3 separate regions of the Homo sapiens genome follow, and all the other regions are linked to region 1. The links come from fine-mapping of genetic effects on gene expression. A gene starts in region 1. Each other region holds a variant in brackets. All regions are shown on one strand. Distances are from middle to middle.

Region 1 (4,250 bases):
CAATAAAATAAAAAGAGATAACCAAGAGAGCTAGATTTTTAGATTAGGTAATAGAATTTGATCGAAGGATTCTGCAGTGGTGTTGAGTTTAGAAAAAATTGGCTGAGTTTCCTCTGGGAAATTAGAATGAAATAGAGGTATGTGGAGGAAAACTTCTGCCAAATTGCCTCTGATTGTTCATTAATATAGTACATTTACCTGCTGAAAGCCATCGTGCTTTCAGGGGTCAAGGACTCAAGAGTAAGGAAGAGTTTGATGAGGAGGTGCTAGTTGGTATTATGTAACGTGGATGTGCATAAGCCTAAATCTGGAGTATTTCAACATTCTGACTCTGTAGCAGAACTGTATAATTATAAATATGTAAAGGCTAAGAATGAAAAGGGTCCAAATCCTATTATAAATGTGTAACAGAGACCTGAGGATTTTATATGACCTCTCCAAGGGACACAGACAATGAGTGACAAGTCTGCAATGCAGGTCTCAGACTCCCAACTGTACCGTATTGGAGATTGAAATCCCTAAAATTATTGTCTTAGCTTGTTTTTTATTGCTATAACAGAACACCACAGATTTAGTTGTACCCAGCAGACTGGGTAATTTATAAAGAAAAGAAACTTATTTCTCACAGTTCTGGAAGCCGAGAAGTCCAAGAGCATGGCACTGATATCTGGTGAGGGTCATCCCACAGTGGAAAGGTGAAAGGTGGAAGCATGTGCATGAGACAGAGAGAGAGAGAATTGGGCCTAACTCATCCTTTTATCAGGAGCCCATTCCCAAGATAATAGTGTTAATCCATTTATGAGGGTGGAGCCCTCATGACCTAATCACCACTTCTAAAGGCTACACTTCTCAATGCTGTTTCATTGGTAATTAAATTTTAACATGAATTTTAGAGGAGACATTCAAATCACAGCAATTATGGAAATAAAAAATATTTTAAAAATTTGGTGATTAAGAAGGGTGTATGTCTGTATTATAGTATGATTTTAATTGTTTTCCCCACCCATTTAAGTGAATATTACCATTAATGTCTGGGATCGGAACCAGGTTAAGTTTCATGTTTTCTATTTCATGAACTTTTACTTCTAGTAATGATTTTGCCTGAATAGGAAGAGAAATGTCACTAACAACAAAGGAAAGCAATTAAAGTATGCTTCCTTTGTTGTTAGTGACATTTACAATTAAAGGAACCATTTATTTCCATATTCCTAATGAAAATGGTAATCATTTGAAGAGTCTCTGAGTCCTTTACCCTTTCTGTCTCTGTCACTTTCATGAATGGGCATTAGCTTCTGTATGCATACCAAGAAGTGTATTATTATAGTTAAAATCACATAAAAAGATTTTCAGGGTTGATAAAGAGGCATTATTTGCCATTCTGAGAATATCCAATTTAGTTGTAGCTGAAAAAAAAGTAACAAAATCATTAAAGTTATGCCATCTAGTCTATACCACTACACTTTTTAAATGGGTATCAGATATCATTGTCTTGATTAGCACCATTTTCATAGTGGTAGTTAAGAGTGAGGGATCTTGGAGTCCAGATACTATTCTGGACTCATCTGTTGGCTTCACACTTATTTAAACATCTGCAAATAACTTCACCTGTTAGCCCCACCTTTCAAATTTGTTTAATGGATGTGAGTAGAGTACCAACTTTGTAGGTTTGCTTTGAGTATCAAATGGGAGAATTCATTTAAACCCTTAGAACACTTTCTAGTACATAGGAATTAGTGAATACAAGGAACCATTTAACTGAAATGCAGTTAACTTTCAGATGAAACTTTCTCATTGGAATGATTCAGATTTCTGAGATGAGCAATCCTCATTTTCTCTCTCTCTGTTCAACTTTATCTTTAATTTGCTCCTTTTTTAGCTTGGCTGTCAAATTTTTAATTATTAAAAGTCATGCAATTGTAAATATGTAGTTATCCATGCAATTGTAAATATGTGGGTTTTTCTTTTTGAATTTGATCTCTTTTTTTGTGTGTATGCCAAAAAGAGCAATAAACAAATACCAATGATGCGCTCAGCCAACAATTCATTACACTCTCTGAAGAGTAACTGGACAAGGAGAAAAACATAGGGAAAAAACCAACAGAATTTGTTGGCATGTTCTACACACAGACCATGGCTTTTCAGAAGCCAAGCTGAATCAAAACAGTTTTAAAAGAGGCAACCATTTGTAGAGGAGTCCTTGAAGGATTCTTCATTGTTTTCTTGGACAAAAAGAGACCAGTGGATCCAAGTGCTTCAAATACTTCTCTCTTATTTTCTTAACTGTAAGTTAAAATTTGTTTTACATTTTCACTTTGCATAAGGTTTTAAAGATATAAAGTATATAGCCAAAGCCAAACATATTGATTGAAATTTTTAAAATTATATTATTCAGATGCTCTAAATTATTTTATGCTTTATGTTATAGTACTAGTGAGTTATTTTATTTTAAAAACTTATGTAACATTTTAGTGTGATAAATGAAAGATGGCTAGATTCAGAGGTGTATATAAATATTATCAGACAATAAATTCTCTCTCTGACACTGCTTTGAATATCCTTTTGAGAATTTGTATGGTTTTACTTCTTTAGAATGTGTGAGCATTAGGGCAAGTTCCTTTTTTCTGTGTTCTTTTGTTCTTTTAAAATGTTTTTGTGGTTTGCTTATGGAGCTGTTTAAGTAGACCTCTGTATCCATAAAGTGAAGATTGGTGTTTTAATGTTTCTACTTTCTTAAGTTAGAATTTAGAGATTATATTGGGTTTTGCTGGCTTTGCCTTTTATTTTATGAAAAAGGGGAAATATAGCAAGTTCTCTCTGAACATTGTAATTTGTATATAATATCAACATTTATTCAAATGGACTTCAGTAGTCATAGTTGTGACACCAAATGATCAGCTCTGGATTTTCAAATTGAAAACAAAGAATAAGGATCATTATTACAAATCAATTACTCTAGTCATATTAGCCAATATTTTTGGTTTTAATCTGTATGTATCTTACATATTTACTTCATAAATGGAGATTTAAAAAAGAGGAATTAGCTTTTTGGGATTCTAAGAATGGCCGTAATGTTTTCGACTTTGCTTTGCCCAGTGGTTAACAAGATATCAAATACATGTGCCCAGATGTGCAATTCAAAATAAGACAGCTTGTGGTCAAATTGCTGACTGACAAGGAACTGCAAAGTGGTTTCTTCCTGTTAAACTTCTTTTTCTTAACAAGTAAAGAGAAAGTGTTTTTTGGATTCTAAAAATTACTAAGATCTTATTGAGGGATTTACTTTAGGTGGATGTAATGTTAAGATTTCATGGAAAAAAAGTGACTTCTGAGACAAAAGGAGAAAGGTCTTATATACTATCTCCTTTATCTCCCTCATAGCCATAAAAGCCTGGAGAGAAATAACAACTGAGAAGACATTTTATAATTACTAATACTTTATATTCTTTTTTAAAATCCTGATTGAATATGTTGCTACAGTGTCATATAAGGCATTTAGTTGGCACATCTGAAAATTATGCTTTCAAAATGTTCAAAGGCTTTCTGTAACTGAACTTTTTTTTTTTCTTTTTTCCCCTAGCTATTGCTCTGCAATATTTACTTTACCCTGTTAATGAACAGGACAAAATGGTTAAAAAAGAGATAAGCGTGCGTCAACAAATTCAGGCTCTTCTGTACAAGAATTTTCTTAAAAAATGGAGAATAAAAAGAGAGTTTATTGGTATGATTCACTATATATATATATATATATCCATAATTAATAAATGAAAATCCACCATATAGTATTATGCCATTTTTATTACTTTTCTTGTTTATAAATTCTGATTTTTAATTATCATACTGGCTAGTTGATTTGAGATTCTAAATACTGCAAAACGATATATATTTTGCAAAATAGGATAATATTTGTGTCAAATGTGAAATTAACTAAAAAGCTCATCTGACAGCTCCTGAAAAATAATCTTTTGCAGAATAGAACCAGCCATTTTCCACATAATTAATGCATTCAAATCTCAGAGTCATTCTGATTTACTCTTAGCTAACTTCTGTGTTGGGGGCAGGGACAGCCAGGGGAAAGATAAGCTAGGCAAAATAAAATAGATTTTTACGTGGGCAAACCCTGATACTATTTGGGGACATTTCGATTAATGTCATGTTATTTGGTAAGGCTGGGAAAATATCTATGAGTAAAAATCTGCAAACTTTTTTGGAATCTCTTCAAAGCCGTGCTTTTTGTAAACATAGAATGGTTT
Region 2 (4,250 bases), 76 kb after region 1:
TTTGAACAATTGTTCCTTTTATTATTATTATAATGTTCCTTATTCTCTAGATTTAAGACTACAAAGGGGACAAATTTTTATTCATTGAGACTGTTCATATATCCTGGTTAATGTGTAATTATAAAACTTCTTCACATGTCAGCAGATAAGTCTTTTCTACTTCAAAATCATGTCCCAATTCAAATGGCAAGAAACCCAGTCTTGGATTAAGAAGACCCTGATTCTCTGTATTAATGTTGTAATACAGGAGATTTTTCAAGGTGCTAACTAAGCATTTGTTTCAGAAATGTTATTTTGAGGTGGCCACGGTGGCTCGTGCCTCTAATCCTAATACTTTGAGAGGCTGAGGCGGGAGGCTTGAGGCCAGGATTTCGAGACCAGCCTGGGCAACATAGCAAGACTCCATCTCTACAAAAAATTTAAAAATTAGCTGGGTGTGGTGGTGCATGCATGTAGTTCTGGCTACCTGGGAGACTGATGCAGGAAGATCGCTTGAGCCCAGGAGATCAAGGCTGCAGCAGGCAATGATTACACCACCACAGTCCAGCCTAGGCAACAGAGCAAAACTCTGTCTCTGAAAAAAAAAAAAAAAAAAAAGTCATTTTGTTTCAAAATGTTATGCAACCAACCAAGCAATTTTAGATTAGTCAACCTTGAAAATTCAAATATTGATGGTGACTCTTTCTTCCAGGTGAAGTTTTGGGATTACTAGGACACAATGGAGCTGGTAAAAGTACTTCCATTAAAATGATAACTGGGTGCACAAAGCCAACTGCAGGAGTGGTATGTGACATGTGAAGGAAATTTTATTTTAAATATTGATGACATCTTTCTATTATTCCTATCAGTAAATCAAATATCTTTTTAAAAAATAGATGAAAGAATTTATAAAATTTCTCTTGCGTATTCAAAAAATATTGTAGCTTAATGGCCACTTTTATCTCCTTTAGTAGAAGGGGGATTGGAGCAAAAACCAAAGGTGAATCTGACATTCATTGTCTTGTGCAGGTGGTGTTACAAGGCAGCAGAGCATCAGTAAGGCAACAGCATGACAACAGCCTCAAGTTCTTGGGGTACTGCCCTCAGGAGAACTCACTGTGGCCCAAGCTTACAATGAAAGAGCACTTGGAGTTGTATGCAGCTGTGAAAGGACTGGGCAAAGAAGATGCTGCTCTCAGTATTTCACGGTACAGAGAGAAGTCTCACAATTTGTAGCAGGAGGAAGGGGAAAATATGTCATTTCTTCATTATATATTAAAAGGAAATTATAAACAATGTCTTTAAATTTTCATGCAAATAAAATGATTCAAATACCTGAATAAGAACCAAATCATAAGATTTAGCATTTATGAAAACGTTAAGGAAGCTTAAATTTACTATCTAGAATAATAGTGCTTAGAGTTTCCTACAGTTGTTTTAGATAGGTCCATTTGCCATATACTTCATGTATAATCACACTGTTTTTTGTCAGATTGGTGGAAGCTCTTAAGCTCCAGGAACAACTTAAGGCTCCTGTGAAAACTCTATCAGAGGGAATAAAGAGAAAGGTATGGGCCAGGCTCGGGGTTTCCCTGTGCACCCATGGCTGGGTGCCGACGGGCTGTTCCTTGCATTGCAGCTGTGCTTTGTGCTGAGCATCCTGGGGAACCCATCAGTGGTGCTTCTAGATGAGCCGTTCACCGGGATGGACCCCGAGGGGCAGCAGCAAATGTGGTAAGGAGAGTGAATATTAAGTGTCAGAGTCAAGAGAATACCTCTAGGATATTTTGTTTTTGTTTTTGTTTTGTTTCTTTGTTACATTTTGCTCCATTAACCTTTGATGTGCACATCTTCTATTATGTAATTCAGTGAAACCTAATATAGCATTCAAAATTCCTGCAGGAGGGAAAAAATAGATATTTTAAGACCCAAATAAACTCTTGATTATATTTGTTTGGATTTCTCTTTCTTATTCCTCTTCCCCCTGTCTTTTTATTTTTCCATTTCATTTTTCAGTTATTGAAAGTCATATAGTATGATGTTTCTGTATTTTTTACTCCAACTTTCCTACTTTTCTTCCCCAATAGTGCATTATTTTAACCAATACTCTTCTTTTTTATGAAGCCTATTAATATGGTACTATCATTAGGCAATATAACACAATTT[C/T]TATTCTTTTTCTCTATGGCAAAGATTTTCTCTTGTAGCCTATTTATTTATTTATTTATTTATTTATTTACTTAATTGTATTACTTGACACAGGGTCTTTCTCCATCACCCAGGCTGGAATGCGGTGGTGCAATCACAGCTCACTGCAGCCTCGACCTCCTGGGCTTAAGTGATCCACTCATCTCAGCCTCCCAAGCAGCTGGGACCACAGGCATGTGCCACCATGCCTGGCTAATTTTTAAATTTTTTTGTGGAGATGGGGTTTCACCATGTTGCACAGGTTTCTTGCATCCTAACATAACATTTTCTCTTTAGATTTCCTGCTTTTTTCTATTTATCTATTTCCCCAAATTACTTTCTAAATGCAAACAATCCCTTACTTTATCTTTAGGCAGATACTTCAGGCTACCGTTAAAAACAAGGAGAGGGGCACCCTCTTGACCACCCATTACATGTCAGAGGCTGAGGCTGTGTGTGACCGTATGGCCATGATGGTGTCAGGAACGCTAAGGTGGGTGCCTGTCCTGACCAGCATGGGACTAGCATGTTCTTATAGAGAGAGTTTCAGTTTGCTATGAACAGCTGATGCTCTACAGCTCCCTAACCTGTAATTAAACACCTTCCTCTACAGTGAGAACCGAGGAAGAAATTAAGAGACAAGTATTTTTTCTTTATTTCCCCTGAACTAGGTGTATTGGTTCCATTCAACATCTGAAAAACAAGTTTGGTAGAGATTATTTACTAGAAATAAAAATGAAAGAACCTACCCAGGTGGAAGCTCTCCACACAGAGATTTTGAAGCTTTTCCCACAGGCTGCTTGGCAGGAAAGGTAAAGGATGTTTTCGGTTTGAGTGACAAGTATGAGTGTTTTCCAGTATTAGCATCAATTAGTTTTGTGCTAGTCTAAACCGGAAGAGAAAGGCAGAGTGGACTTATTCATCACAAAACAACCTGTTTGAGGATTGCTAGGATGCGTTACAAAAACTAAACAGTTATTTTCAGTGAGTGTTTTAGACCTCAGAAAAGGTGAATGGTGTGTGTGTGTGCATTCATATATGTGTGTAAATGGTGGAATGGCTTGGAGATTAAGAACAAAGTACAGACAAATTAAACTATCAACTTTTTAATGATTTTTAAAAAATAGACAATGAAAACAATGCTTTCACCTACAGGATTTTGCTGAATATAAATTGCATCAAGAGCTCCGTAACACAGACTTCCATGCTTGAGAAGGATTGACTCTATCCTAAATTATTCAATTATAAATCATTTGATCCTCCCAATGTTTCTTTTAAAGTTGTATGTGGTCAACCATGTGTTACAAGTAATGGTAATCAAACCCTTGTGAATAGCAGAATGAGGCTGAATTTAATTGAAAGATGAACAGAATTTTCTTGTATACCATTTCTACTCATTTATTTTTATAATATTTGTTATATTTATTGAATACGTATTATCTGCTGCCGGCTGTGTATTGAATAGTCAACAAAATAGACAAGGTTCTTCCTTTTGGAGGTGAAGATATTAAGCAAATGAAGATACAAATAAATGAGGATATGACATTGAGGTAGGACTTTAAGACTGAGCAGGGTTTGGTCAGCTGAAGAGTGGGAGTAACAGACACTGTTTCCAGGAAACAGCACATTTAAAGAACTTAGGTCAAGAATGAATTCTACAAATGTCAAGGATGAAACAAAAGCTCATGTAGTTGATGTGTAAAGAGATATCCAAGTGGAGATGCCAAAGTAAGAGATGTAGACCTGTGGCTCACAAGAGAAGGAAGAGGTCATTGAGATCTGGTCTGGCAACAAACAAAGTGGGGGATTTTTTTTACCATATAGAAGACCATTAAACTAGGAGAATGTTGAGGCCAACAAGAGAGATAGGAAGTCGGATGAACCCCAGGAGCTCTCAGCTTTGAGATGGGATTGAGGAAGAAAATAAATCTTCCTGTGTGGACAGTACCACCACAACCATACCAACAAAGACTGAGGAGTATCTAGAACAGCATTGGCCAGTAGAATTTTTGTGATAATGAAAATGTCCTTTCTGTGCTGTCCAGGATGGTAGTCACTACACATACGTAGCTACTGAGTACTTCAGA
Region 3 (4,250 bases), 440 kb after region 1:
TTGGTGGCCCACCACATGACCTGTGGAAACACTGCAGACCCTTGGCACAAAATGGATGGGAGTACAGCTGCTCTTCCCTCATGCCTCTCCCCACCCTACCAGTTTGTTCTAATCCTCTTCTTCCTTAGGAACAGATCAGCAAATGCAGTGTCTAAGCAGAAATCCAGTTAAGGAAAGGAAGGCAAGTGCTCCCTTCTGGGCATCACCCTCCCTATCATCTTTATTACAGATTCTCTTGGAAACTCTCTCCCTCTCCCATTCTTGGATGTAGTGAGGGGAGGGAAAAGGGGAAACCTCTCACTACAAACTCTGCATTTCCCATGTGGCCAGTGACAGGATCCTTCCCCATCTCCTCAAGAGTGGGGGGCTAAAATAAAATTAAATACCTAGGAATTAACTTAACCAAAGAAGTGAAGGATCTCTATAATGAAAACTATAAAACACTGATGAAAGAAACTGAAGAGGAAACAAAAAAATGGAAAAAGATTCCATTTTCATGGATTGGAAGAATCAGTGTTGTTAAAGAACACTGTTGTTACTCAAAGAAATCTACAGATTCAATGCAATCCCCATCAAAATACCAATAACATTCTTCACAGAAATAAAAAACATCCTAAAATTTATATGAAACCAAAAATGGCCCAGAATAACGAAAGCTATTCTAAGCCAACAGAAAAAAAAAACTGGAGGAATCACATTACCTGACTTCAAATTATACTACAGAGCTATAGTAACCCAAATGGCATGGTACTGACATAAAAACAGACTCATAGACCAATGGAACAGAATAGAGGACCCAGAAACAAATCTACACACATACAGTGAACTCATTTCCACCAAAGGTGCCAAGAACATACACTGGAGAAGAGACGGTCTCTTCAATAAATGGTGCTGGGAAAATGGGAATCCATATGCAGAAGAATGAAGCTAGACCCCCATCTCTCACCATATAAAAAATCAAATGAAAATAGTTTAAAGATTTAAATGTAAAGCATCAAACTATGAAACTACAAGAAAACATTGGGGAAAATCTCTAGGACATTGGTCTGGGCAAATATTTCTTAAGCAATGCCCCACAAGCATAGGCAACCAAAGCAAACATGGACTAATGGGATCACATCAAGTTAAAAAGTTTCTTCACAGCAAAGCAAACAATCAACAAAGTGAAGAGACAATGCACATAATGGGAAAAAAACATTTGCAAACTACCCCTCTGACAAGAGATGAAAAACAAGAATATATAAGGAGCTTATACAACTCTATAGGAAAATAATCTAATAATCCTATCAAAAAATGGGCCAAAAAATTGGATAGACATTTCTAAAAAGAAGACATACAAGTAGCAAACAGATATATGAAAAGATGCTCAACATCACTGATCATCAGAGAAGTGCTAATCAAAACTGCAATGAGATATCATCTCGTCCCAGTTAAAATGGTTTATATCCAAAAGACTACAATAACAAATGCTGGAAAGAATGTGGAGAAAGGAGAACCCTTTTACACTGTTGGTGGGAATGTAAATTAGTACAACTACTATGGAGAACAGTTTGAATGTTCCTCAAAAACCTAAAACTTGAGCTATCATATGACCCAGTAATCCTACTGCTGGGTATATACCTAAAAGAAAGGAAATCAGTATATCAAAGAGATATCTGCACTCCTGTATTTGTTGCAGCACTGTTTATGATAACTAAGATTTGGAAGCAACCTAAGTGCCTATCAACAGAAGAATAGATGAAGAAAATGTAGTACATATATACAATGGAGTAAGATGAATGGATAAGGAAAATGTG[G/A]TACATATACACAGTGGAGTACTATCCAGCCATAAAAAAGAATAAGATCCAGTCGTTTGCAATGATATGGATGGAACTAGAGATGATTATGTTAAGTGAAATAAGCCAGGCACAGAAAGACAAACATCACTTGTTCTCACCTATTTGTGGGATCTAAAAATGAAAACAATTGAACTCATGGACAAAGAGTGTAGAAGGGTGGTTGGTTACCAGAGGCTAGCAAGGGTAGTGGGGGACTTGCAGGGGTGGTGGGAATGGTGAATGGGTACAAAAAAAATAGAAAGAATAAGATCATAAGACCTACTATTTGATAGCACAACAGGTTGACTACAGTCAACAATAACTTAAGTGTACATTTTAAAATAGCTTAAAGAGTGTAATTGGATTCTTTGTAACATGAAGGATAAATGCTTGAGGGCACAGATACCTCATTCTCCATGATGTGCTTATTTCACATTGCATGCCTGTATCAAAATGTCTCACGTACCCCAAAAATATATACACCTACTATCTACCCACAAAAATTAAAACTTTAAAAATTGTTTAAAAGAGTGGGAGACTTACAGCGTGGGTCTGGTTCTCCTATATCTTTGGACTCCCTGGGGCAGGAGTTTAGGATCTTTAGGGGTCTACTTCTAACCTGTTTGTTTGTGCCAAGTTCTTCTTTACCAAAAAAAAAAAAAAAAATTATTGGTGAGAAATCTAAAGTACATAGCATACTCTTTCAAACAAGGACCATTTTGTTAAACATTTAGTGAATGTCCACTGAATGTCTGATGCTGGAGTTACAGAGAACCTGATGGTTAACTGAGAGAGACACTGAGTCACAGAGTAGCTCAGATCATCTCCCCAGTGTGTGAAATGCACTGAGCCCAGAGAGTGGGGCTGACTCCCCTGAGAGAGATCATAGATTCCCCCCTCAGCGTGAACCACAGAAAACAACCTGGTGTTGGCAGCAGAATGGGAAGTGGATGAAGATACATGAGAACAGCCAGTCATAGCTGACATGTTAGCACCAAAAAATGCTAATCTCCATGTTGAAACATGACATTATAGACTGGACATGCAACTGAAGATCATAAAACTTGATTTACTCAGCACCTTTGTGACCATCACAATCAGGTGTTCCTTGGCCTCGGTGCCAGCTCCCATACCTGCAAACCTGCGTGTCCCAAACCCAATATTTGACTTCACATGCATTCTGCTTATTTGTCTCTGATGACGACTAACTTCATTTTTCACATCCCCCACTTTGGCCTTGAAGACCCCTCTTTGGGTGCTGTCTCCCCATTTATCTGCACTGTGTAATAAGCTTTTGTCATTGTTTCGCTCTGAGTGTGGAGCTTCAGTCTCAATTTCCCCCTCACACACGTTCTAGCCAAATGAAGCAGCCTCACCAAGGGTCCTCAAAGCATGGTGAAGCTCTCCTATGCTCTGTTCCTGTTAGTAACATGATGCCCACATTAGCATAGACGAGCACAGAGCTGTGAAGAAGATGTTGGAACATCTCTTGCCTCTTGTTTTCCCAGCTTGACCTCTTAACCTATTCATGACAATGATGTTCATCTCCAGCCACCACAGTTCCCTGCACACAACATGCACCTGGCTGGCTCTTCCCATATATCTTCATCCACTTCCCATTCTCCTGCCAACACCAGGTTGTTCTCCGTGGTTCACACTGAGGGAGGAATCTGTAATCTCTCTGGCAGGAGTCAGCCCCATTCTCTGGGCTCTCACTGCGCTTCACACACTGGGGAGATTATCCGAACTACTCTGACTTGATGTCTCTCTCAGTTAACCATCAGATTCTCTGTAACTCCAGCATCTGATGCTCAGTTGGTATTCACTAAATGTTTTAAAAAAATGGTCCTCATTTTGAAGAGTATGCTATTTACTTCAGATTTCTCACCAATAGAGTCTTTTTTTTTTTTTTTTAGGGAAAGAAGAAATAAAAAACAAACATCATTAATTAAGCAACTGCTTATATACCAGGAATCAGCCTCTTCTATTCTTTGATGCCTTAGTGAAATGGTTGAGTAATTTCACGTTTTTTTAAATAAAGAAACTGAGACTTAAAAAAGCAAGGTAGATACCTCATAAGTGTCTGAGCCTGATGTGCATAGTAGGCTATCTGGCTCCAAAGTCTTGGATCTTTCCACTATGCCTTTAAAAATATATAAAGGGAAAAAAGGAAGGAGGGAAAGAAGGAAGGAAGGAAGGAAGGAAAAAAGAACAGGAGGGAGAGAGCGGGGAGAGGAAGGAAGTAGGGAGGGGAGGAGAGGAAGGAAGGAAGGAAGGAAAAGGAGGGGAGGGAGAGAGGGGTGAGAGGAAGGAAGGAGGGAGGGAGGGAAGAGGGAGGGAGGGAGCAAAGAAGGAAGGTAGGAGGAAAGGAAGGAGGGAGGAAGGAAGGTGGGAGGGAGGAAGGAAGGAAAGAGGAAGGAAGGAAGGAAAAGA

Direction of the effects. Alleles are on the strand shown, and positions count from the first base shown. SD is a standard deviation of normalised expression in the study named. Not every link is listed here.
As copies of A replace G in region 3, the expression in sun-exposed skin of the gene that starts at base 2,039 in region 1 goes up (small effect, 0.28 SD a copy in GTEx).

The links. PIP is the estimated chance that this variant, and not a neighbour inherited with it, causes the effect.
Region 2: its variant is the best candidate, but not a certain one, in a credible set for the expression of ABCA10 in whole blood (TOPMed, PIP 0.86).
Region 3: its variant is the best candidate, but not a certain one, in a credible set for the expression of ABCA10 in sun-exposed skin (GTEx, PIP 0.80).

The regions. Positions count from the first base shown.
Region 1 is chr17:69,226,613-69,230,862 of GRCh38, reverse strand. It overlaps ABCA10 (ATP binding cassette subfamily A member 10), which reads left to right and starts at 2,039. Exons shown (of 39, transcript NM_001377321.1): 1 at 2,039-2,282; 2 at 3,578-3,718.
Region 2 is chr17:69,150,768-69,155,017 of GRCh38, reverse strand. ABCA10 (ATP binding cassette subfamily A member 10) reads left to right here. Exons shown (of 39, transcript NM_001377321.1): 31 at 692-783; 32 at 1,009-1,187; 33 at 1,472-1,547; 34 at 1,619-1,713; 35 at 2,537-2,656; 36 at 2,835-2,975. Among named protein-coding and RNA genes, the nearest start is that of ABCA6, 11 kb to the right of the region's middle. The variant C/T (reference allele first, on the strand shown) is at 2,146.
Region 3 is chr17:68,786,228-68,790,477 of GRCh38, reverse strand. No RefSeq gene overlaps it. Among named protein-coding and RNA genes, the nearest start is that of LINC01482, 160 kb to the right of the region's middle. The variant G/A (reference allele first, on the strand shown) is at 1,797.